Homo sapiens: one gene and its partners. The protein of the gene in region 7 purifies or fractionates together with the protein of the main gene of each other region. This does not show direct contact. Each region holds a gene or a part of one and is shown on either strand. Other genes may lie near its edges.

The links.
Region 1: the proteins of CST9L (region 7) and SEMA4B purify together in Homo sapiens (affinity purification with mass spectrometry; one large-scale study listed by BioGRID and IntAct). This does not show direct contact.
Region 2: the proteins of CST9L (region 7) and NPTXR purify together in Homo sapiens (affinity purification with mass spectrometry; one large-scale study listed by BioGRID and IntAct). This does not show direct contact.
Region 3: the proteins of CST9L (region 7) and SUSD1 purify together in Homo sapiens (affinity purification with mass spectrometry; one large-scale study listed by BioGRID and IntAct). This does not show direct contact.
Region 4: the proteins of CST9L (region 7) and SEMA4D purify together in Homo sapiens (affinity purification with mass spectrometry; one large-scale study listed by BioGRID and IntAct). This does not show direct contact.
Region 5: the proteins of CST9L (region 7) and ITGA7 purify together in Homo sapiens (affinity purification with mass spectrometry; one large-scale study listed by BioGRID and IntAct). This does not show direct contact.
Region 6: the proteins of CST9L (region 7) and SEMA6B purify together in Homo sapiens (affinity purification with mass spectrometry; one large-scale study listed by BioGRID and IntAct). This does not show direct contact.

What each region holds. Positions count from the first base shown.
Region 1 is NC_000015.10:90,204,330-90,207,829, reverse strand, and holds part of SEMA4B (semaphorin-4B isoform 1 precursor), read right to left. Parts: intron 1,349-3,500; exon of another isoform or gene 842-1,348; intron 1-841. UniProt on the Homo sapiens protein: Inhibits axonal extension by providing local signals to specify territories inaccessible for growing axons.
Region 2 is NC_000022.11:38,827,029-38,830,528, forward strand, and holds part of NPTXR (neuronal pentraxin receptor precursor), read right to left. Parts: intron 1,485-3,500; coding exon 1,259-1,484; intron 1-1,258. UniProt on the Homo sapiens protein: May be involved in mediating uptake of synaptic material during synapse remodeling or in mediating the synaptic clustering of AMPA glutamate receptors at a subset of excitatory synapses.
Region 3 is NC_000009.12:112,098,798-112,102,297, forward strand, and holds part of SUSD1 (sushi domain-containing protein 1 isoform 2 precursor), read right to left. Parts: intron 3,489-3,500; coding exon 3,379-3,488; intron 1-3,378.
Region 4 is NC_000009.12:89,376,735-89,379,924, forward strand, and holds the end of SEMA4D (semaphorin-4D isoform 1 precursor), read right to left. Parts: intron 2,896-3,190; coding exon 1,970-2,895; 3' UTR 501-1,969; downstream 1-500. UniProt on the Homo sapiens protein: Cell surface receptor for PLXNB1 and PLXNB2 that plays an important role in cell-cell signaling. Regulates GABAergic synapse development. Promotes the development of inhibitory synapses in a PLXNB1-dependent manner.
Region 5 is NC_000012.12:55,701,405-55,704,904, forward strand, and holds part of ITGA7 (integrin alpha-7 isoform 2 precursor), read right to left. Parts: intron 1,775-3,500; coding exon 1,647-1,774; intron 1,548-1,646; coding exon 1,468-1,547; intron 17-1,467; exon of another isoform or gene 13-16; coding exon of another isoform or gene 1-12. UniProt on the Homo sapiens protein: Integrin alpha-7/beta-1 is the primary laminin receptor on skeletal myoblasts and adult myofibers.
Region 6 is NC_000019.10:4,542,685-4,546,184, reverse strand, and holds part of SEMA6B (semaphorin-6B precursor), read left to right. Parts: intron 1-1,655; coding exon 1,656-2,584; 3' UTR 2,585-3,500. UniProt on the Homo sapiens protein: Functions as a cell surface repellent for mossy fibers of developing neurons in the hippocampus where it plays a role in axon guidance.
Region 7 is NC_000020.11:23,565,685-23,569,682, reverse strand, and holds the start of CST9L (cystatin-9-like precursor), read left to right. Parts: upstream 1-1,198; 5' UTR 1,199-1,232; coding exon 1,233-1,472; intron 1,473-3,595; coding exon 3,596-3,709; intron 3,710-3,998.

The DNA of each region.
Region 1 (3,500 bases), on a different chromosome or scaffold from region 7:
CCCTCTTCCCAACTATGGCCATGCAACCAGGGGCCTCGGCTGGATCCCCTGCCCCGTCCAGAGACTGACCTCAACAGATTTCTTTAACAGATGGAAAAATATAACCTGCAATTATTCAAGGGCTGAGCCGGGTCATCTTGCTGCTTTTGTACGATTCACAGGTGAAGCAGGAGGCAGCTGTTCTAATGGAAAGAATGTGGTTGCTGAATCGAGAACTGTGGCCCAAGGCTTGGTCCCAAACTCTTCTATAGCTGCATGACCTTGATAATGAGTTAGCTTCACTGAGCTTTGGTTTCCTCATCTGCATGAGATAAAGCAATGCACTTCCACATCCAACAGCAGTGCCTGGCACACAGGGAGTGCACCGCAATGGCCGCTTTTATTTGCTCTTCCAGTTGGCCCCCTTCCTAGAGGATGGGCCAAAAGATGCCAAAAAAGAGGACACGAGTTGGCTAATTTGGCTCCTCTTTAGGAGTATGGTAAAATGATGGCTTCTGTCTCCTACCTACCATCCCCACTGAAACCCCCTCGCCACAGGCCCCCCACCTCTCGGAAGCCTGTTAAGACTACAGGATGGGCTTCCAGATGGATCCAGGAGTGCAGAATAGAGCTTCCATGCACAACAAGTCAGATCACAGGCCTGGGAGGCAGAACTCTAGCAGCTGGACAGAACACTCCACCTCTGTGTATCACTCTGTAGCCACTCTACTCTTCTGTGACCATCTCTGCCACAGGGCAGGAGCCACCCCTTAGTGTTCCAGTATTCAGTGCCCAGAAGAGGGTCGATGGTGAGCTAATAAGTATAGAGCCGCTGTGGGCACCAGGCTTTTTTTGTTTTTTTTGTGAGCCAAAGATATTTTCTTCATTTCTTGCATTAGAAGTTCTCTCTGATGACATGCTTGGCCTGAGACTCCTTGCCATAGTCCTTAACTACTATACAACTGCAACCAACCACTTTACGGGGTTTCCCCTCTCTGTCAATTTGACAGAGACCTACCCATTCCCCCAGTTTCTTTTGTCATCAACCTTAATTAGGTTGATTTGGTGCTCAGCACAAAGGGCTTCCACCAACTTGACATACACAGTCTCATCACCGTTGGATGCAAGCACACAAAGATGGGCTTGGCGCTTGTCTAAGGCTTTGGTAGCTTTGCGAATTCCATGTGCTAGGCCATCGTGGATGAGGGCTGTCTTCAACAGCTCTTGTAAAGCAGCATTAATGTCCATTACCCCTCCAGCAGCAATGCCTTCCTCGGCCATGGCAGTGGGTTACGGGTGAAGCCGAATCTTGAACGCAACTGAGCCTGAGCCTCCGTCTCTGCATGACTTGGTGGCAGCAGGGAAAGAGCCACCAGGCTTTTAATTATCTTATCTTACAGACAGGATAGCTGTCCCACATCCAGCACAGGGAGGTCAGAATGTGAAGAGGAGGGGCAGGGAAACCAGCTGGGGAAAAGCATGGAGAATGCAGTCCAAGGGAGCAGACTTCCCAAAAAGCTAATCTGAGGGAAGGCAGGCCTCGACCACAGGAGTCTCGCGTTGTGTTGTTCCTGTTGCCCCGATCCCCAGGGAGGGCCACATCAGAGGCCCCCTGAGTCCTGCGCCAGCCTGAGCACCCATGGGGGTGGAGTGAGAGGCAACAGGCTCTAAGAAGATAAAGGAAGGAGTGATTGATGACATGACCCGAGTCTAGCCTTTTCTCCAGGCCCCGTGCCACCCTCTGTCTCTTGCCTAGAGGATGAACATGCTGGTATATCCAGATATGCCCCAAAAGTTGTGCAAGTTTAGCGCTCTCCTGGGTTGGCACAGAGGTATTTCAACACCAGCTGGATGTGGGTTGTGCTGAAGGCAGAGCAGAACCAGTGAAGGGCAGGCAGGGAGAGGCATGGTCCAGCCCCATGCAGAGGAGGTTCTTCAGGCAAAGGAGGACTTTGAAAAGGCTGAATCAGGAGCACTTAATAACTGGGCTATAATTAAGCAGGACCCCTGGTAATGACCTCCAATCAGCTCCTGGGGGCCTTGCTTTGTCTTTTCTACCAGGGCAGGCACTAAGCCTGACAAGGCTTGGCACCTAGCAGAGGGCCTGCATACCACCAGTGTGCACAAAAATGGATGCAAATAACCTCACCAAGCAAGGCTGGCAGGGGGTTTCTAGCACACCAGAGCAGAAGCTACCTTTTTACTACGGATGCAGCATGTGCCAGGCACCATGCCAAACACTTTACATACATTATTTCATGTAATCCTCTCAGAACACTGTGAAGATGGCCATTATTCCTCTCTTGCTAATGTGAAAATGGGCCTGGAGAAGGCCAGGAGCTTGCCCAAGGTTGTGCAGTTAGTAAGGGTGGCAAGCTACTTTACAAAGCCAGGCTCTGAGCATCCGCAGTTAGAGCGCCTTCCACTCACCTCTGCAGAGCCAAAGAGATGCTGGCCCATAGGACAGAGCTGGGGACAAAGGCTCATGTCCAGTTGAGACCATGTCAAGGAGGGAAGCCAGTAACCGGGCTGAGGGCTCAACAAGCGACCAGCATCAGGGCTTCCCAGGGCAGCCTTGACCCTGGCTGCCTCCTCCAGGGCCAGAGGGCAAGCAGCTGATTTGTGCCAAATGCTCCATTCTCTCTGCTCAATGGCGTTTTGTTGACTGCAGTTTGCAGGCCTGCAGATTTCTGTCCAATCTGCTTCAGAAATACTGCGTCCAGAGCTTTCCCGCCCGGCACTTCTGGGGCAGGAGGGAATTAATAACTCCCTTTAAGGCCGGATGTGGTGGCTCATGCCTGTAATCCCAGCACTTTGGGAGGCCAAGATGGGCAGATCACCTAAGGTCAGAAGTTCGAGACCAGCCTGGACAACATGGTGAAATCCCATCTCTACAAAAATACAAAAATTAGCTAAGCATGGTGGCGGGCACCTGTAGTCTCAGCTGCTCGAGAGGCTGAGGCAGGAGAATCACTTGAACTTGGGAGGTGGAGGCTGCAGTGAGCGGAGATGGCATCACTGTACTCCAGCCTGGGAGACAGAGCGAAACTCCATCTCAAAATAACAATAATAATAACTCCCATTAAGTGTCCAAATAAGGTGGCCCAAAAAGACTTTGGAGGGCCATGAGAGGAGGCGTGTTTTGTTTCTCCCCACGTGGCCAGGCTGGGAAGCACTGGGCGCCATTGTTTCTACTCAGCACCACTCCTGCTCCTGACCGAGGCTTTGGTCCTGGAGCTCTGCATGGTAGTTCCAACGCAAGAGAACCCAAATTCCACACACTTCTTTGAAGTGTTCCTTTCAGAGATTTCCAGCTGACTGTGGAGCCCCCAGTGGCTGTCCCCTCATCCTCCTCTCCCTACTGGCCACTGGGCGAGGCCACAAATCGGCTCCCTGCATCTTAAGCACCCCAGGAATGTGCTGTTCATCAACAATAATTAGGGTTCCCTATGAAGGACCCCAGATGCAGGGCAAGCTGGACGCTCCACTTCAAGGGATTTTGTTTTAAACCACAGACATAG
Region 2 (3,500 bases), on a different chromosome or scaffold from region 7:
GAGGCAGGGCTGAGGAGGGCTGGAGGTTGCTTCTCCTGTTCCTGTGCTCCACCTAGGATGCTGGCCCTGAGCCACCAGACCTGTCCCTCCCCTGCAGCTGTGCCCCTGCGATGGCCCCTCCATTCTGAAATTTGCTCCTCACCACTGTTTTCAAGAAGTAGCTTGAGGCCTGCCTCCTCCAGGAAGCAGCTTGGATATTCTTTCTTTTCTTTTCTTTTTCTTTTTTTCTTTCTTTTTTTTTTTTTTTTTGAGACGGAGTTTCCCTCTGTTGCCCAGCTCACTGCGACCTTCACCTCCCAGGCTCAAGCAATTCTCCTGCCCCAGCCTCCCGAGTAGCTGGGATTACAGGTATGCACCACCACACCCAGCTAATTTTTGCATTTTTAGTAGAAATGGGGTTTTGCCATGATGGGCAGGCTGGCCTTGAACTCCTGACCTCAGGTGATCCGCCCACCTCAACCTCCCAAAGTGTCGGGATAACAGGCATGAGCCACCATGCCTGGGCCTGGATTTTCTTCTCCTGAACCCCTGTTCCCCATGTAAGCTGGTCCCAGCTAACTGCTCACCATTTCTCCTGTTCTCCCCAACTTGTCTGTAAGCCTCTTAAGGGTGGTCTTCACAAGAATTGAAAGCTGAAAGGTCTTTGAGAGCTCATGAGTCCTAAACCCCTATTTCTCAGATGAGGAAAACTGAGGCCTGGGGAAGGAAGTGAACTTCTGAGGTCACAGAGCAAGCCAGAGACAGATATGCAACCAGGAGCCAGGTCTCCTTATGCTTATACCTGTACCCTGCCCATTATGTTCCTTTGACCCCTTGGCAGTGCCAGGCACAAGTGTTAAACAAAATCCTGACCAAGTCATTGAAAATGCTATTTTGTGGGTGGTTAAATGTATGGTTGTGGAGTCAGACCTTGTTTGAGGTCCAGACCCGCCACTTTTGTCTGTGTGACCTTGAGCATGTCACTTGACTTCTCTGAGCTTCGGTCTTCTCATCTGTGAAAACTGTGGATTAAATCAGCTGATGTATCAAGTACTTAGCCCACTCCCAGGACACAGTAAGTGCCAGAAAATGAGATCTGTTAATAATGTTGATAATGATAACAATATCCCCCAATGATTCTCTCCACTGTGTGTTCCACAGCCTCCTCCCCACCCTCCAGTCTGTCGATGTTAGCCTCCGGGGAGCATGGATATATTTTTTGAATGGCTCTGTCATCCTGAGGACCCCTCCAATGCCCTCTGCAGGACCCAGGACCCACCGTGCTCCAGCTCAGCCACACGACCCTGCAGGACGTCCAACTCCTTTTCCACTTCCTGCCTCTGCCGGCGGCTGCTGTGGCTGAGGGCCACACGCTCCTTCTCCAGTGCCAGCACCTGGGCCAGCAGCTGCCCCTCCAGCTGGTCCATCTTGGAGTGTAGGCCGGTGGGCACAGCAGAGACTGGGGCTGGGGCAGCTGAGAGGTTCACACGGGCTGGAAGCTCCTGCTGTTCACAGGGCAGAGAAACAGAAATCAACTGAGGGGAGGAAGGACAGGCTGGGAACACTCAGATGCCTACCGCCCCTGCTCAGTGACCCCAGGGGAGCCTCAGCTTCCCCAGTATGCAAAATGGGAATGACAATGGCCAACATCAGGCAACAGATGCATCCTGGGTCCCTGGCAGGCTCTGTTCCTGGTGCTGGCACATGACGGCGAGCAGCAGGCAGAGCTGGCCCCGGCCCTCAAGGACAGCTCAGGCTGTGGTGGGGGTGTGGGGCGTGGCCATGAGTGCTGTGAAGGTCCCCCAGGTGGTTTCAGGGTGCAGCTGGGGCTGAACGCCCCACCCTAGTCCTTCATAGCAGCAAGGCTAGACACTGATAGGCTGGTAAAGGGGCGGACCATCTTAGTCTTCATTCCCTCACTCAGCAAGCTTCTCTAGAACGGTCCTTGGCAAAAGGCTCTGTATGGCCACTGGGCCCACTCAGGGCGTGAAACAGGGACTTCTGGAGCAGGGCCCCGGTGGCTTGACCATACCAGGGTGACAGGTGGTTGAAATCACATACTTTGGAGTCAGACAGCCCAGGGTTCAAAACCAGCTCGGTAACCAATCTGCTATGTGACTCTGAGAAAATATCCTGACTTCTCTGAACTTGTTTACTCAAAAGAGAGCTGCACCTATTTGGAGAGTTGTGGGGAGGACTAAGGATTAAATATCAATAAACAGAGCCTGCTTATTGCAATTGCTGTCTAGGGCAGGGTGTTCCAGGGTAGGCTCTGACATCCCCCATCCAGCCCGGGATGAGGTCTAAGTGTTCAGAGTTCCCCATGACATGCCTGTCTTATCTTAAGACCCCAAGGGCAGCAGAACTGGGGCAGGAGCTGGGAGGGTTTCCTTCCCCTTCTCCTGCTGGAAGAAGGCCCCTCTGGGGTGGAGGAACGCAGGTGAGGCCGCAGGTCCAGACTCTTCAAGGGGACAGTCTGTGGCAGACATGTCACAGAAATGTCAGTAGGAGATTAATAATTCAATGAGCTGCTAGGAGCTAAATTAAACCTTCACCATCCTCCACCATCCTCCTGGATTCCCCCTCCTCCATGGTCCCCGCTACCAGGCCTGATGCTTGCGAACTCCCCAGGGGCCTGGGAAGTTTTTGCTCAGTCAGTTCCTTGCTCCCAGGCTTAGGCCCCAGACACGAACTCATTGCATTCTGTGATTCAGTCACTGAGCAAACATTCAGAGGGCACCCCCATTGTGCTGGGCACTGCCCCAGATGCTGAAGTTGTGGCTGGAGGCAAAACAGAAAACCAAGAACCCCACCTTTCCTCAGTTTCCTAAGCTGCGAGGGGATGGCCTTGCAGCCTGGGACAAGTATAGAATCCCCTGTCCAGCCTCACTGGCCCAGCCAATGGCCTTGTCAGTCATTTGCTGGGTGACACTGGACACTGCTGGTGGCTGCTGTGACTGAGGGCCGCGTGTTCCTTCTGAGCTGTGCACTCCTCCTTAACTTCTCTGAGCCTGTTTTCTAGCCATGGGACAAGGGGAGAAGTGCGTCCCCTGCATCAGAGTGCTGGGGGCAAAGGACCACTGCCATGCTCAGTGCCCGAGACTTGGGAGCTGCCAGTGTGGACAGCAATGTGACCTCATTTTGAGGAGTTGCAGGAACCGGCCCTCGGCTCTGCCACTGCCCCGTGAGAGTAGGGACAGGTGGGCTGACACTCCGAGATCATTTTTCCCCTTCTATAAGATGGAGACACGGAATGCTCAGCCTCCAGGGCTGGCCAGCATTAAATGATGGCGTGTAAGGGAAGTGCCCAGAGCCTGGCCCACAGTGGGTGCCGGGGGCATGGTTTTGGGTGCATGGGGTAGGTGGGAAGACTGAATGGGACGCTCTTGCTGCCGGCTGAGCCTTAGCAGACACCTTGCAAACATTCCCTCTCTGAATCCACTTAACATGCCAGTGTCCCCATTTCAGGGGCAGGAAAACTAGGGTGAGTTAACTAAGATCACACCAGGAGCAGGAGCAGA
Region 3 (3,500 bases), on a different chromosome or scaffold from region 7:
AATAGCAAGCTAACCTGAGGAAGGACTTGACAAAGCTACCTTACCTGTCCTCACAATCAGGTATAGGACCAAGCTTAATATGCATAACTACATCTCAGATGAAGAAAATATTAGTCTATTCCAAAATAATCCCTTGATTATAACGCAAGTGAAAGAGATTACATTGGAGCTAATGGGCAAAATTATTTTTTTTCCTCCTTCCCTTCTGAATACTTCGTTCTCTCTCTCTCTCTCTCTCTCTCTCTCTCTCTCTCTCTCTGTCTCTTTTCTGAGACAGGGTCTTGTTCTGTCACCCAGGCTGGAGTGCAGTGGCACAATCTTAGTTCACAGCAATCTCAAACTCCTGGACTGAAGTGATCCTCAGCCTCCCGAGTAGTTGGAACTACAGGCATGCACCACCACACCTGGGTAATTATTTTTACAATTAATTTGTAAAGACAGGATCTTACTTTGTTGCCCAGGCTGGTCTCAAACTCTTGGCCTCAAGCCCACCTCAGCCTCCCAAAGTGCTGGGATTACAAGTGTGAGCCATTGCACCCAACCAAAATTCTTTTAGTTTCTTTTCATTGTAAGAAATCCATGGACAAGCCTCATAGAACAGAGTACTTAAACTAGGTGGGTTCCTTAACCCTACCCATGGAAGAAAAAAAAAACAAAAACATATGGGGACCACCCCAGATTATGCATTCAAAGCAAATGCCATGGTACTTCACTGGACCCTTCCTATTAGACCTCTGGTAAAAGGGCTTTTGATCCATGGAGTCATATCACACACTGTCACCTAACCATCCTCTACGCACTGCCAGCTCCAGCAGGGAATTATAGGGAAAAAACTTTCGTGAAGGTCCTATAAGTAATATGATCAGCCCTTGATCAGTTAGGGTGCATTAGCTGGTGGAGACATATGCTCGGTGTTGCCACTGATGCTAGCACCATTGTCTATACCACCCTCAATCCCTCCTTATTCCCATCAATCACTAACTCTTCTCTTATCAATTTTGACAGTCATCCAAGACCCTGACAGGTGGTTCATAAGGATTCTTCTCTCTCAAACTCTTTGAATTCTCTTGGATAACTTAAAGGTCCTTACAGATAAACCATCAAATGTTGGCCTCAGAGTTCTTTGAGCTCAATGCTATGAACTTCCTTCACTCCACTTTGGCCACCCATATCCATGGCCACAACCTAGACTATGCTATCGTCAGAGCTGCTCCTCCACGGTCTGGCAGTCCCCTATTCTTCTGGACCACTTACTAGTGAGGCATAATGTGTTCATGCGTGTTTAGGCAATACGTCTATTTTCTTTAGCAAACCGCTTTTAAATATTGACTTTTTTCCAGTCAATTTAAAAGTGTTTCACATGTCACACAAATTAACCTTTATCTAATTTTTTTGTTGTTGTTTTTTTAGACGGAGTCTTGCTCTGTCGCCCAGGCTGGAGTACAGTGGTGCGATCTTGGCTCACTGCAAGCTCCACCTCCCAGGTTTACACCATTCTCCTGCCTCAGCCTCCCAAGTAGCTGGGACTACAGGTGCCCGCCACCACGCCTGGCTAATTTTTTGTATTTTTAGTAGAGATGGGGTTTCACCGTGTTAGCCAGGATGGTCTCGATCTCCTGACCTCGTGATCCACCCGCCTTGGCCTCCCAGAGTGCTGGGATTACAGGCGTGAGCCACCACGCCTGGCCAATTCCTACTTACTTTCTATGACTCAGTATAACAGTCTTTGCTTCTGGTTAAAAAAATTGTACCTGGCCTGGCAAGTAGCTCACACCTGTAATCCCAGCACTTTGGGAAGCCAAGGCAGCTGGATCACCTGAGGTCAGGTGTTTGAGACCAGCCTGGCCAACATGGCAAAACCCCATCTTTACCAAAAATACAAAAATTAGCTGGGCATGGTGGGGCATGCCTGGAATCCCAGCTACTAGGGAGGCTGAGGCAGGAGAATTGCTTGAACCTGGGAGAGGGAGGCTGCAGTGAGCCAAGATCATGCCACTGTACTCCAGCCTGGACGACAGAGCAAGACTCCATCTCAAAAAAAACAAAAAAATTGTACCTGGACACACACACACACACACACACACACACACACAAATAAAATCTCTATTTTTATACTTATTTACTTTTATTATTCCATTATTAATTTACTTTTTGTCAAAGCACTCATTATACCATATTGTAGTTGCCTATTTACCTATATATTTCTATCAGTTTGAATTGGAAACTTCCAAGTCCTAATATGTGATATACTTCTGGTAAATAGAATAAATTAATTAATTTTGGCCTGGGCGCGGTGGCTCACACCTGTAATCCCAGCACCTAGGGAAGCTGAGGCGGGTGGATCACTTGAGGTCAGGAGTTTGAGACCAGCCTAGCCAATATGGTGACACGACATCTCTAATAAAAATACAAAAATCAGCAGGGCATAGTGGTGCACACCTATAATCTCAGCTACTTGGGAGGCTGAGGCACGAGAGTCGCTTGAATTTGGAAGGTGGAGGTCGCAGTGAGCCAAGATCGCCTCCCTGCACTCCAACCTGGGTAACAGAGCAAGACTCGGTCTCAAAAAAGAAAAAAAAATTTTTTTAATGTAATACTTACTGAGTTTGCTCTCTACCAGATGACTTGCTAGGCACTAAAAATGACACAAAATAAATCTCAGTTCCTGCCTGAATTTACTTACAATTTTACTGATGATGTTTAAGAAAAAATCAAGTTAAATGAGGGTCAATAGCCATCCAAAGAGTTCCTTAAAATTCCATGCCCAGCTGGGCGTGGTGGCTCACGCCTGTAATCCTAGCACTTTGGGAGGCCGAGGAGGGCAGATCATCTGAGGCTGGGAGTTTGAGACCAGCCTGACCAACATGGAGAAACCCCATCTCTACTAAAAATACAAAATTAGCTGGGCGTGGTGGCTCATGCCTGCAATCCCAGCTACTCAGGAAGGCTGACGCAAGAGAATCGCTTGAACCCCGGAGGCAGAGATTGCAGTGAGCCGAGATCATGCCACTGCACTCCAGCCTGGGCAACAAGAGCGAAACTCAGTCTCAAAAAATAAAAATAAAAAATAAAAATAAATTCCATGCCCAAATGTGAATCTGATAGCAAAATAAGCTGTATTGTTTAATGCATTAAAATAAAATATAAGCTTGAAATGCCAGGCACAGAAAATGATAGCAAGTCACCAAATATAGTATCTTTCTTCAAGTTAGTACCTCATTTACACCCATCTCACATCTTACATCCATCTCTAGAAACAACAATCACAAACTGTCTAGAAGTTCATTCATTTTTAAATACTTTGGATACTTACTTGGAGATCGCCCAAATTTTTAAATGACACAATTCTTTAATGGAAAGCATAAGAGATCTCCTTACTTGGTACATGTGTTCTGATCCAACTTTCCTAGAACGCCTGTTCAATTTCAAACAAGTTTCATTAAATATTGAAATATTGAAACTTCCATCATCTTCTAAGAGATCAACTTCTAAAAGACAAG
Region 4 (3,190 bases), on a different chromosome or scaffold from region 7:
GAACATGTGGAGGGATGTGGAGGATGCCCCCGCCCGCCCCCCACCTGTGGGAGGAGACAGATGGACAGGGCACAGGGGACAGAGAGGGCCCAACTCACCTGTGGCCTGGCAGAAGAGGTAGAAGTTCCCCAGGGCGTGCACGTGCTGTGCCTGGTCACTCAGGAAGGGCGGCAGCAAGGAGACCCTCGAGCTGCTGTCGGGCCCCGCACCCGAGGCTGGCCAGGGGGTCCAGGGAGAGGAAAGCCTCCTGTCCCCCACATGGCCCAGACAGGACAGGGAAGAGGAGCCAGGAGGAGGGAGGGGCTTAGGAGACGAGGCTGTGAGACAGAGAGGACAGAAAAGAGAGGGCACTGAGGAAGAAGTCGCCAGGAGCACGTCACAGGCCAGAGAGGGCAAAACACAGCAGGAAACGGACAGAAAAGAGCGAGCCCAGCTGTCCCGCCTGGGCCATGCAGGGGCGGGAGGCTGCACAGCCTCCGCTAAGGAATGTCTTCCCCAAATCAAGGATAGAAGCTTCTCATTTATTTGGGTACTTTCCAAATGTATACAATTCAAAGTAGAAAAATAAAAACAAGGTAAATCTTATAAAACACAAATGTTTACACCAAAATGGTCAAATCCTATCATGCTGGAAGATAAGACTGTCCACACACGCGCACAAACATCCAGAGTTTATTGCTCTTCACCATGGAAAAAAAGTCTCTTCCCGATGGGTATTTACAAAGCGGGGAGATGGAGTGTGAAATTAACCAGTGTTGAAATCGTACCACCCATTCACATCTTCAGGACAGTGGCAGGAACAGCGCCGTATGCTTGAGGGTGCTGTGGTCACAGCTCGCGGCCCCGGCCACCGAGGCCCAGTTCCCTTCCAGTAGTGGGCAGCTCAGTGAGGCTGGATAGAAAGTCTGGGCAGGCAGTGGGTAAGCAATTGAAGCAAGAAGAGAAAGGAGATGTTCAGAGAACCAAAGGCGCCCTTGTGAAGGTTCCATCTGTCTCACAGGAGGTTCTGACCGACAGCTGTGGGCTCCAGATTGTACCGCACTCCCATCTCAGCTCTGGGCCAGCCTGGCTCCACTCAGCTCATCCAGGCTACCTTCCCTTGCTCAAAACCCACCTCGTGGATGTGGGAAGGTCCTCTTCTTCGAGAGAGTAAAAGTTAAAAAAAAAGAAAAGTAAAACGAAGTACAGAAAGAAAATCTCTCCAAAAACAATGCTTCCCTCAAGGAATAAAGTTAAAAAAAAAAAAAGAAAAAGAAAAAAGGTGAGTGGGCTCCGGGGAGTGTTTATGTCTACATTTCTAAAAGCAGAAAGAATGCATTTAGCAAAAGGAAGTTTATCCCTGAGAATCTTAAGCAACGTAAGCCGTATTTTATGCCAAATATATAACAAAATCTGGAAGATATACATCTTCTTCTAAATATTAACACAACTGCTTCTGTAACTAAAAAAAAATGACCCATGACATAAACACAATCAAAGCAAAATCCTAAAAAAATAATTAAGTGGAAGAAAAGGTTCGTGCCAATCTGGACAACAGGCGATAAGTTACCAATCTGATAAACTAAAATGTCATTTCCAATCTGGAATTAAATAATCTTTTAGTGGCTGCTACGGGGAGGGGAAGCTGAAGGGATGCTCTTCTCAGCCAACAGAGGTCCAGCCACCTTTCCCCCACTACAGAAAGGGCTCAGGAACTCCGTGCCGCCCGTGGGCCTTCTTCAAGTACTCCGACTGACTTCGGAACACAAGACTGGGATGCAATGCTTGTCATTTTTCCAAAAGGACAAAGAGAAACCAAGTCACAGGCTCAACCCAAGAGAAAATAGACAAGAGGACTGAGGTTGTCTGCACGATGCGGGCTAACCTACGCAGCACTGCACGAGACTCGGATACTGAACAGGAGAAACACAAAACTCTCCACGCCTGGACACGTCGCAGCCGAGGCACCAGCGGGGATGCACAGCCGGCCTCAGTCTCCATCTGCGTCTGAGTCAGCGAACTTCAGCTCACACTTGACGTCAAAGGGCTTGTCCCTGGCAGAAAGGTCGTCGATCCTCTGTGAGTCCTCCCTATCCGTGGGGACTTTGCTGGTGATGGTGTCTTGCTCGGTCTCATAGCCGGTGTCCAGGGCTGGCTTGGGGTGCTCCCCATTCTGCTGGGAGAAGCTCCCTGGCTCTACTAACGTCTCCTTCAGGCTCTGCTCACGGTCACAGAAATCTGACTTGGGCTTCTTCTTCCCAATTAGTAGGGCCGAGCGGAATTTCAAGCACTGTCTGGGCAGGTATCCCTTATAGCAGTTGTAGAAAAAGAGGCAGAGGAAGAGAACAAAGAAGAAGAGGAAGAGGGACATGAGGAGGCGGTTGTCGCTGGACTTAAGATACATGGTTTTCTCCGAGTGGAGCTGGGGGACCGTGTTGATGACGATCTTTGGTTCGCAGGATGTGCCGGTGGGCGCAGGCTTGGGAGGAAGGGTGATGGCCCCGGAGGAGGTGGCCTGCACGGCTGGGGTTGGGGGAGAAGACCCTTGGGTGGATGCCACCAACACTTTGGTGGCAATCCTACTACCTTCTGTCTGAACAACTGACAAGGTGGGGGCCACTACGGGCTTTGGAACCACCTTCACTTCCAGGACGTGCTTGGCGACCACTTGGAAGACCGTTTTGTTCTTAACCCTCTCCTCTGACAGGCACTGGTACACCCCACTGTCTCCTTCTGACAAGTTGAAGATGAGCAAGTTTTTTCTGCCCATAAGACCGTACTTGGGGCTCTCGGCCTTCAACACGCCATTCTGGAACTTCCAAAAGACCCGGGCCAGGTTGGATTTTTGGGAGCATTTCAGTTCCGCTGTGCCACCGTGCTTGAAAAAATGCTGCCGGTAACTTCCTTTACTTTTATCTGGAACATCAAAATAAACGTGCACAGCGTCAACAATCCCCATTTGCTATTTAACAACTTCTTTAAAATACCCACAAGATGACGCAAGAGTTTCACCCACTGTAGCAACATGGAATCTTCCAGAACAACTAAGGAGATAAAGACATGCGTGACCAAAAAGCAAAGATGAGCCCTGGATGACAGCCCATGGGGACAAAGAAATTGGAGGCAGCTCTGAGCAGCAGAAATCCCATTTCTCACCCGTGTCCCAGAAGAAAACGCGTCAGGCTGGGGAAGCTGAGCAGAGGCCAGTTCT
Region 5 (3,500 bases), on a different chromosome or scaffold from region 7:
TTGTTCCACATTCTGCCTGGAGCCAAAAGACACAATTAAGCCACCACATAGGATGTGTGTCTCCCTGATCATGTCACAGTCCTCCAAAATGCCAAGCTTGGCCCTGTCCCTGGACCTTTGTAAGTGTCACCATCTCATCTGCAAAGAACTTCCTGTCCGCTTCACTCTCCAAGTATTACTTTTTTTTTTTTTTTGAAGCAAGGTCTCACTCTGTCACCCAGGCTGGAGTGCAGTGGCACAATCATGGCTCACTGCAGCCTCGACCTCCAGGGCTCAAGTGATCCTCCCACCTCAGCCTCCTGTGTAGCTGGGACTACAGGCATGCACCACCATGACTGGCTAATTTGTTTTTATTTTTTATAAAGATGAGGTCCCACTATGTTGCACAGGCTAGGTATTACCTATTATTAAAGCCTGGCTCAAATCATCCCCTCTGCAGAAGTCTTCTCTCTACTCCTCCTTTGGACTTTTATAGACTGGAGACTAGACCACTCACTTAACATGAACCAGATTCTGCCCCACAGTGATCTGTATTGGTAATTGTGTATCTATGCGTGTTACTGAAAGATAGAGAGAGAGAGAGAAACAGAGAGCTCTGGTTTTTTCGTTTGTTTGTTTGGTTGGTTTTGAGACGGAACTTTGCTCTTGTCTCCCAGGCTAGGGTACAATGGTGCGATCTCAGCTCACTGCAACCTCCTCCACCCAGGTTCAAGTGATTCTCCTACCTCAGCCTCCCGAGTACCTGGGATTACAGGCGCCTGCCACCACACCTAGCTAATTTTTTTTTTTTTTTGAGACGGAGTCTCGCTCTGTCACCCAGGCTGGAGCGCAGTGGCGCGATCTCAGCTCACTGCAAGCTCCGCCTCTCCGGTTCACGCCATTCTCCTGCCTCAGCCTCTCTGAGTAGCTGGGACTACAGGCGCCCGCCACCACGCCCGGCTAATTTTTTGTGTTTTTAGTAGAGACGGGGTTTCACCATGGTCTCGATCTCCTTACCTCGTGATCCACCCACCTCGGCCTCCCAAAGTGCTGGGATTACAAGCGTGAGCCACCGCACCCGGCCACGCCCGGCTAATTTTTTTGTATTTTTAGGAGAGACAGGGTTTCGCCATGTTGGTCCGGCTGGTCTCGAACTCCTGACCTCAGGTGATCCACCTGCCTCGGCCTCCGAAAGTGCTGGGATTACAGGCATGAGCCTTCCCCTGTAGTAACTAGCACAATGCCTGATGCTTAAAAGGTTCTCAGTAAGAGTTTGACAAATGGATGGATGAATGAATGGACAGACATTTTTACATTTATAAGGACAAGGACCATGTCTCACACCTTTTTATATCTCCCTGATGTACTTGGAATCATACCATATTCCTAACTTGTGTTCTCTAAGCACACCTATGCGTATGCACACACCATAAACACACACACACACACACCCCATCCGTGCATTCAGTCATGAGAAGCAATACTCACAACAATCTTGCCCCCAGGCCCCTGGCTCCGAACACTGACTCCCAACCACTGGTTCTCCTTGCTTTCCTTTTGCATATCAGCTAGAGGCAGGACACTGGGAATTAGGGGAGGGAAGAGGAGCCCAAGTCCTCTCCTCCCCGCTCACACGCTTCCCCCACTCTGTTCATGCAGGGCCACACCTCCCTGGTCGATGTCCACTCTGTAGCAGTCAGTCTCCTCCAGGCTCAACGGGCAAGCGAAGAGGCCTCCAGTGCGATTCGCCTGCTGCCCAGGAAGAGCCAGGGCCTGGGGAGCACCCACCAGCAGCCTGCAAGATGGGGCAGGGGCAGGGACAGGGACAGGAGTTAGAGGTCAGAATGACCCAATCTCATTAGAGCTGCCCAGGCCCAACCCCTCAGTACTAAAGAGAGTGTTCAAGGACTAAAGAGAAGGGGCAAATGTCAGTTTTCTCAAACCCTGGCAAGGACAAATTAATATGCTTGGTCATGCAGTCATCACGTTGCATGTACATACTATCTGGATAAGGGATCAACATACACAGTAGATACACACACACACACACACACACACATACACGCCAACCCAAGCAGCCAGGCCAACAGTGCTGGTTTGAAAGAACTGCCTGTTCCCAGCACCTGTTCCTGAGTAGGCCTTCCCTATCCCCTCCTTGGCCCCATCCCCAAGCTCTGCCCTGCTCCCCAACCCAGTCCAGTTGAAACCCAGCCAGAAATGCCAAGAATGCTGGGAGCAAAAGTAACAGGGCCCCAGACTGGCATCAGAGTGTGGCTCAGGGACCAGCTTCAGAGGCCAGGCAAGAGGCTAGATACGGACCCACTGCCCCCTCATCAGGGACCCAGCAAAGACCCCACCTCCCAGAAGCTGTGCCAGCCCAGGATTCCATCAGTCACTCTGGCTGGCATGGAGGTAGGGACAAGTTTCTCCTTCTGCCTCCAATGCTACCCCATTCTCTTCCCGACATCCTGAATCCCCTTCCCCATCCTTCCTTCTCCCCATGTCCATGATTTCTCCTTCCCTTCCACCCCCACCCAGTCTTCTCTCCTGCCTCCCCCTCAGCCTCTTTCCCAGCTACAACTTTCTTGGCAGGACAATTTTCCATGATCACAGCCAAGCCGTCTTCCCCAGGGGAGCACAGTGCTGGGAATGGAGGCTGCCTGGGTCCCCTGGGGCTGAACCCCCAAGCCAGAGTGAAGGCGGGGGTGAGGTAAGATGACTGACACCCAGCTGGCTCCATGGGTCCTCTCTTTGCAGAAGGAGAGACTCAGAAGTGGCAGTGGGACAAACCTCAACGCCTCTCTCCCACACTCTTCTCCTCCATCTCCCTTCCTGGGGGGCAAGGCCCAAAACCATGTTAGGCAGTATTACAGACAGGCATCTGTGGGGCACTGTGCCAGCTCTGATGGGGTGGAGGGGGAGGGCAGAGAGCCATTCTTCCTTCCCACAACTCCTCCTCATCTCTTAGCAGCTGCCATCCCTTGTCAGAGCCAGTGTCAAGACAGAGAAGGGGTATAGGGAGTAGTAGAGAAGAGAAGACACATTTGGCATTCAACTACTTATTGAGAGTCTATTGTATGCCAAGCCCTGTGTCAGGCGCTGGTGAGACAAGGAAATCATATTTATTCAGCACCTACTATGACGTCAGATCCGAGGCTAGACACCAGGGATATAAGAAACTAACATTCATCACTGTCCACATATGTGCCAAGCACCAGGATAGGCAAGTCACATGCATTATGTCATTTAATCATCAGAACAATCCTATGAGATAAGGATTCTTTTCTTGTCTTTCAGATGAGAAAACTCACTCAAAGACATTAAGCAGTGATGCTGGAATTCAAATCCACATGGGCCTAACTCCAACACTTTGTCACTCCACCCAGTGACTGACCTGTCTCTAGAACACTGAGACCACCCCAGAAAGGGAAGGAGAGAGTGGGGAGATGAGGGTACCCTGGGCAGAAAAGGAAACGGGGTGATACAGCCCTGCATAAATAAATGGCAACCTTCAGGCAAGT
Region 6 (3,500 bases), on a different chromosome or scaffold from region 7:
CATCCCCCACTACCATGGGGGAGGGGAGGGAGGAGGCTGGAGGACCCTCGAATCCTCTGGGAGGTGGGTGGGGAAACTGGACTCCATCAGAGAACTTTAGAAAGGCATGGGGTGGGCCGGGCGCGGTGGCTCACGCCTGTAATCCCAGCACTTTGGGAGGCCAAGGTGGGTGGATCACGAGGTCAGGAGATCTAGACCATCCTGGCTAACACGGTGAAACCCCGTCTCTACTAAAAATACAAAAAATTAGCCGGGCGTGGTGGCGGGCGCCTGTAGTCCCAGCTACTCGGGAGGCTGAGGCAGGAGAATGGCGTGAATCCGGGAGGCAGAGCCTGCAGTGAGCCAAGATCACGCCACTGCACTCCAGCCTGGACGACAGAGCAAGACTCCGTCTCAAAAAAAGAAAAGAAAGGCATGGGGTGGTCTCATCTCATTTATTGGGGAGGGAGATAGGGGAAGAACAGAGACACCAAGAAACAGGCAGGCTTTGGCAAGGACGAAGAGACAACAGAAGGCAGACAGACCAACTTCAACAGGACAGAAGGGGCCAGGCGCGGCAGCTCCTGCCTATAATCCCAGCATTTTGAGAGGCCAAGACAGGACGATCACTTGAGGTCAGGAGTTTGAGACCAGCCTGGGGAATATAGTGAAACCCTGTCTCTAAAACAAAAACCCAAAAATAATCCAGACGTGGCAGTGCATGCCTGTAGTTCCAGCTACTTGGGAGGCTGAGGCGGGAGGATCGCTTGAGCCCAGGGAGGTGGAGGCTGCAATGAGCTGTGATCAGGCCACTGTACTCCAGCTTGGGCAACAGAGTGAGAACATGTCTTTTTTTTTTTTTTTTGAGACAGAGTCTTGCTCTGTCACCCAGGCTGGAGTGCAGTAGTGTGATCTCAGCTCACTGCAACCTCCACCTCCCGGGTTCAATTGATTCTCCTGCCTCAGCCTCCCAAGTAGCTGAGATTACAGGCGCACACCACCATGTCCGGCTAAAATTTGTATTTTTAGTAGAGATGGGTTTCACTTGTTGGCCAGGCTGGTCTCAAACTTCTGACCTCAGGTGATCTCCTGCCTCAGCCTCACAAAATGCTAGGATTATGGGTGTGAGCCATCATGCCTGGCCCAGATCCTGTCTTTAATAAAACAAACAGGTAGCTGGAGGCAGGGTTGCAGTGAGCTTTACCACTGCACTCTAGCCTGGGGGACTGTCTCAAAACAAACAAACAAAAAAAATTAAAAAATAATAAAAATAAGGCCAGTCGTGGTGGCTTATGCCTGTAATCCCAGCACTTTGGGAGGCAGAGGTGGGCGGATCACAAGGTCAGGAGTTCAGACCAGCCTGGCCAACGTGGTGAAACCCCATCCTACTAAAAATACAAAAATTAGCCGGGCGTGGTGGTGGGCACCTGTGGTCCCAGCTACTCGGGAGGCTGAGGCAGGAGAATCACTTGAACATGGGAGGCGGAGGTTGCAGTGAATCGAGATCGCCCCACTGCACTCCAGCCTGGCACACAAAGGAAGACTCCTTCTCAAAAAATAAATAAATAAAAAAAAATAAAAATAATAAAAAAGAGGACAGAGGGCCCCGAGGAGGTAGGAGGGATGCCCAGGGCCACCCCGCCGGCCCCACTAACCCCCCTGTGCTCCCCGGCCAGGACTCCTGCGGGCCAGCCTCTCCGAGGACCGCGCGGGGCTGGTGTCGGTGAACCTGCTGGTAACGTCGTCGGTGGCGGCCTTCGTGGTGGGAGCCGTGGTGTCCGGCTTCAGCGTGGGCTGGTTCGTGGGCCTCCGTGAGCGGCGGGAGCTGGCCCGGCGCAAGGACAAGGAGGCCATCCTGGCGCACGGGGCGGGCGAGGCGGTGCTGAGCGTCAGCCGCCTGGGCGAGCGCAGGGCGCAGGGTCCCGGGGGCCGGGGCGGAGGCGGTGGCGGTGGCGCCGGGGTTCCCCCGGAGGCCCTGCTGGCGCCCCTGATGCAGAACGGCTGGGCCAAGGCCACGCTGCTGCAGGGCGGGCCCCACGACCTGGACTCGGGGCTGCTGCCCACGCCCGAGCAGACGCCGCTGCCGCAGAAGCGCCTGCCCACTCCGCACCCGCACCCCCACGCCCTGGGCCCCCGCGCCTGGGACCACGGCCACCCCCTGCTCCCGGCCTCCGCTTCATCCTCCCTCCTGCTGCTGGCGCCCGCCCGGGCCCCCGAGCAGCCCCCCGCGCCTGGGGAGCCGACCCCCGACGGCCGCCTCTATGCTGCCCGGCCCGGCCGCGCCTCCCACGGCGACTTCCCGCTCACCCCCCACGCCAGCCCGGACCGCCGGCGGGTGGTGTCCGCGCCCACGGGCCCCTTGGACCCAGCCTCAGCCGCCGATGGCCTCCCGCGGCCCTGGAGCCCGCCCCCGACGGGCAGCCTGAGGAGGCCACTGGGCCCCCACGCCCCTCCGGCCGCCACCCTGCGCCGCACCCACACGTTCAACAGCGGCGAGGCCCGGCCTGGGGACCGCCACCGCGGCTGCCACGCCCGGCCGGGCACAGACTTGGCCCACCTCCTCCCCTATGGGGGGGCGGACAGGACTGCGCCCCCCGTGCCCTAGGCCGGGGGCCCCCCGATGCCTTGGCAGTGCCAGCCACGGGAACCAGGAGCGAGAGACGGTGCCAGAACGCCGGGGCCCGGGGCAACTCCGAGTGGGTGCTCAAGTCCCCCCCGCGACCCACCCGCGGAGTGGGGGGCCCCCTCCGCCACAAGGAAGCACAACCAGCTCGCCCTCCCCCTACCCGGGGCCGCAGGACGCTGAGACGGTTTGGGGGTGGGTGGGCGGGAGGACTTTGCTATGGATTTGAGGTTGACCTTATGCGCGTAGGTTTTGGTTTTTTTTGCAGTTTTGGTTTCTTTTGCGGTTTTCTAACCAATTGCACAACTCCGTTCTCGGGGTGGCGGCAGGCAGGGGAGGCTTGGACGCCGGTGGGGAATGGGGGGCCACAGCTGCAGACCTAAGCCCTCCCCCACCCCTGGAAAGGTCCCTCCCCAACCCAGGCCCCTGGCGTGTGTGGGTGTGCGTGCGTGTGCGTGCCGTGTTCGTGTGCAAGGGGCCGGGGAGGTGGGCGTGTGTGTGCGTGCCAGCGAAGGCTGCTGTGGGCGTGTGTGTCAAGTGGGCCACGCGTGCAGGGTGTGTGTCCACGAGCGACGATCGTGGTGGCCCCAGCGGCCTGGGCGTTGGCTGAGCCGACGCTGGGGCTTCCAGAAGGCCCGGGGGTCTCCGAGGTGCCGGTTAGGAGTTTGAACCCCCCCCACTCTGCAGAGGGAAGCGGGGACAATGCCGGGGTTTCAGGCAGGAGACACGAGGAGGGCCTGCCCGGAAGTCACATCGGCAGCAGCTGTCTAAAGGGCTTGGGGGCCTGGGGGGCGGCGAAGGTGGGTGGGGCCCCTCTGTAAATACGGCCCCAGGGTGGTGAGAGAGTCCCATGCCACCCGTCCCCTTGTGACCTCCCCCCTCTGACCTCCAGCTGACC
Region 7 (3,998 bases):
TGGGAACATGGTATGGGACACAGTCAGAACAGTTCTTGTAGAATCAGTCTCCCTGACTTGGGACTGAACTTTCTATTCTGTTATCTGGCAACAATGCTAGGTTCTTGCCTATATTGCAGCACCATAGTCTTCTCAGCCAAACTCAAAGCTCTCACTTTTGCATACTTCACCTGTCCTGCACTATTTAATGTTCATTCTTACAGCAACAAAATATTATTATTTCCTCTTTCAGGTTAGTTATTGCCAGGAAATTGATTTAAAAGTAACCACCTAGTATCACCTAAGTGCTGGCAAAATAGCTCACTCTAGAACACCAAGAAGGATGGTCAGATGGAGACAAAAATGATCAAGGGGCTGAAGAATGGTCCAACCTCTATCTCACTGAGGCAGAAACATGTGATCTCCCAGAGAAGTGTTTAAAAATTTGGTCTAGAATGATATTCCAGTCTAATAAAACATGAGTGTGTGTGGTGGGGCTGCAGATGTAGGGCGGTGGGCCCTGTAGAAACCTTGGCTCTGGCTCAGCTGGAACCAGGGCTGACAAGGTTTAGAAATGCAAGCAGGGCTGGGCTGGGCATGACCAGGCTGGGGCCTCAGGACTTGGGTCTCTGTCTTTCCTGCCCTTTTCTCACAATACTCATTGTCCATCCCAGGTCAAAATGGTTGATAAAAATTGCCATTTATTTTTTTCATTTTTTCCCTTGGTTCACAGAGTACAACTGTTGAGGTATTATACAACAAAAGAACAAACTGATATCTTAGTTATTTTTCTGAACAACGGAGATCCTCTCTTCGACGGGGTGAAGGAGGGGAGAGTGAGAGTCGAGATGTCCCCAGGTCTTATCTCAGTTCGCTGTGGGAGGCGAAGGCACAGAATCATCCAAGGACACCAAGCACCTGAGGACAACCAGAACCTGTGGGTTCTGAAGGAGCAGCCTTCAAAGCTAGTGGCAGAGGGTAGCTCCCCTCCTGCCTGTGGCTTGTGCTGGCCTAGAGAGTATAGGGCAGAAGGATGGCAGATGAGTGACTCCACATCCAGAGCTGCCTCCCTTTAATCCAGGATCCTGTCCTTCCTGTCCTGTAGGAGTGCCTGTTGCCAGTGTGGGGTGAGACAAGTTTGTCCCACAGGGCTGTCTGAGCAGATAAGATTAAGGGCTGGGTCTGTGCTCAATTAACTCCTGTGGGCACGGGGGCTGGGAAGAGCAAAGTCAGCGGTGCCTACAGTCAGCACCATGCTGGGCCTGCCGTGGAAGGGAGGTCTGTCCTGGGCGCTGCTGCTGCTTCTCTTAGGCTCCCAGATCCTGCTGATCTATGCCTGGCATTTCCACGAGCAAAGGGACTGTGATGAACACAATGTCATGGCTCGTTACCTCCCTGCCACAGTGGAGTTTGCTGTCCACACATTCAACCAACAGAGCAAGGACTACTATGCCTACAGACTGGGGCACATCTTGAATTCCTGGAAGGAGCAGGTTGGTGACCACGTACCCTCCTGCCCTGGCATCTGGCATGTGCTGCTCAGTGAAAAATGGGAGTGGGGTGGGGACAGGGGGTCTTATTGAAGAGTCTTGTTCACCAGTTGTAGTCCATACTTAAGAAAATACAAGGTAGTTTAGTTAGTTTTTGATTTTGAAAACATCTAAGTTAGAAATTTCAAATAATTTGATCCTAATCAACTCTCATGAAAAACATATTGTTTAATCTCCATCTTTTTATGACATTATTTAACTGAAGAATGACTTCAAAATGAGGACTACCAAGAAAATGAAGATACGGAATAAGGAAAAGGGCTGAACAGAAAATGTGAATAGAGAGAAATTGAGAAATACTTCCAAAAAATGTAATAAAAAAGAGATAATTTAAAAAATGAAAATTAAAAAAGAGAACAGTAAGGGTTCAGGAGCAATAAGAAACCCCCACCAGTCCCAAAAGACCTCTGGGTGGTCAGTTCCTCTTTGCTGATTTCCAACTTCTCTGAGCTCCTTGGTGTGTCTGCACTTAATAAACTGAAGACTGTTTCACACTCTTCCTCAGACCACAGGTCTTAATCCTAAATGTTCTCCTTTTAATGAAGTCACTACAGAATGCAATCAGGAATGCACAGTTCATCTGTGCTGTAGGCATGAACAATGAAAATAGTCACCAAGTTGAGGACTTTTTTTTTTTTTTTTTTTTGAGATGGAATCTTGCTCTGTCACCCAGGCTAGAGTACAGTGGCGTCATCTCCGCTCACTGCAAGATCCGCCTCCCAGGTTCAAGTGATTCTCCTGCCTCAGCCTCCCAAATAACTGGGATTACAGGCACCCGCCAGATGCCTGGTTAATTTTTTGTATTTTTAGTAGAGACAGGGTTTCACTATGTTGGCCAGGCTGGTCTTGAACTCCTGACCTCATGATCTGCCCACCTCGGCCTCCCAAAGTGCTGGGATTACAGGCATGAGCCACTGCACCCAGCTAAGTTGAGGACTTCTAGTTGGGTAGAGAGGCAAAAATGCTCTTCCTACCTCATTACTGAAACCTTGCAAGAAGAGCAAAAGGACCCCAACCCTGCACCAAGCTTCAGCCTCTGGAAAGACCCTGTGCAAGGCCCTGGCTGGTTCTCTGACCCCTGCTCTCTGGGCTGGAGCCTGCCACGTGGGTTCCTGGATGTGACAATTCCAGAGTCAGTTTTGGAGTTGGGGAAATGGACGGATAGGGAGAAAGGAGATGGAATGAAGTGAAACTGAAAGGAGTGAGAAGATCAAGGTGCACTTTGCAATAGGGCAGATGGTGTTTCTTTCTTTCTTTCTTTCTTTTGATATGGAGTCTCACCCTGTCAACCAGGCTGGAGTGCAATGGCACAATCTCAGCTCCCTGCAACCTCTGCCTCCCGGGTTCAAACAATTCTCCTGCCTCAGCCTCCCTCCCGAGTAGCTGGGATTACAAGCACCTGCCACCATGCCCAGCTAACTTTTGTATTTTTAGTAGAGATGGGTTTTCACCATGTTGGCCAGGCTGGTCTCGAACTCCCGACCTCATTATTCACCCACCCCAGCCTCCAAAAGTGCTGGGATTACAGGTGTGAGCCACCACACCCGGCCCCAGATGGTGTTTCTTGAAGCCATTGTCCCAAGGATGTATGCCTGTGTGTAGTGGGAGTGCTGGGTGGCATTCTTGCATTTTTTTTTTCCTCAGGTCAGGTGGAAGGTTTGACAACATGCCCTAGATGAGGCTCCCTCTGTCCCAGGGCTGAGGTTACCCTGAAAGCTCTTGGAGAGCCAAACCCCTCCCCAGGCACATAGCGCCATCCTCTGGAAATGCAGCTGCAGGTTCAGACACTGACTGAGAGTGAAACTGGGGTCTCACCATGGGAGAGTGGGAAGTGCATCTGGAAATAGGGATACATTCATGGGTGTCTGCCCTGGGGCCACCATGCCCATCCGCTTTTTGTTCTTAACTGCCCAATCTAAAGAAGATCTCCTGATGCCAGGCCCATGGGCAAGCTCCCTAATGGAGGAGAATGTTGGGACTTCTCCTACACAAATGACATCTTCACCAGCAGCTACTTAGGGGCAACAAGGAGGGTGTGTTCACATTAATCTCTCTGTGTGCAATAGGTGGAGTCCAAGACTGTATTCTCAATGGAGCTACTGCTGGGGAGAACTAGGTGTGGGAAATTTGAAGACGACATTGACAACTGCCATTTCCAAGAAAGCACAGAGCTGAACAATGTAAGACAGGACACCAGCTTCCCTCCTGGATACAGCTGTGGATGCCACATGGGGTGTGGTGTGGGCACAGGTGCAACTGACAAAGAGACTTAGAGGAGTGAGCCTGCAGCAGCCTCTACCAGGCTGCCCTGCTTGTGCCTTAGTGGGGAGCGCAGAGGGGCAGGCAGCTAGGGGTCCACTTGCAGGCTCCTGGCCAATCTGAGTTTATCAACTCTGCCCTGTCATGCCACTGCAGCTGCCTGCACCCAGGGCACATGGCCTTCAGACTGCTCTTTCCCCCTGGGGTCCC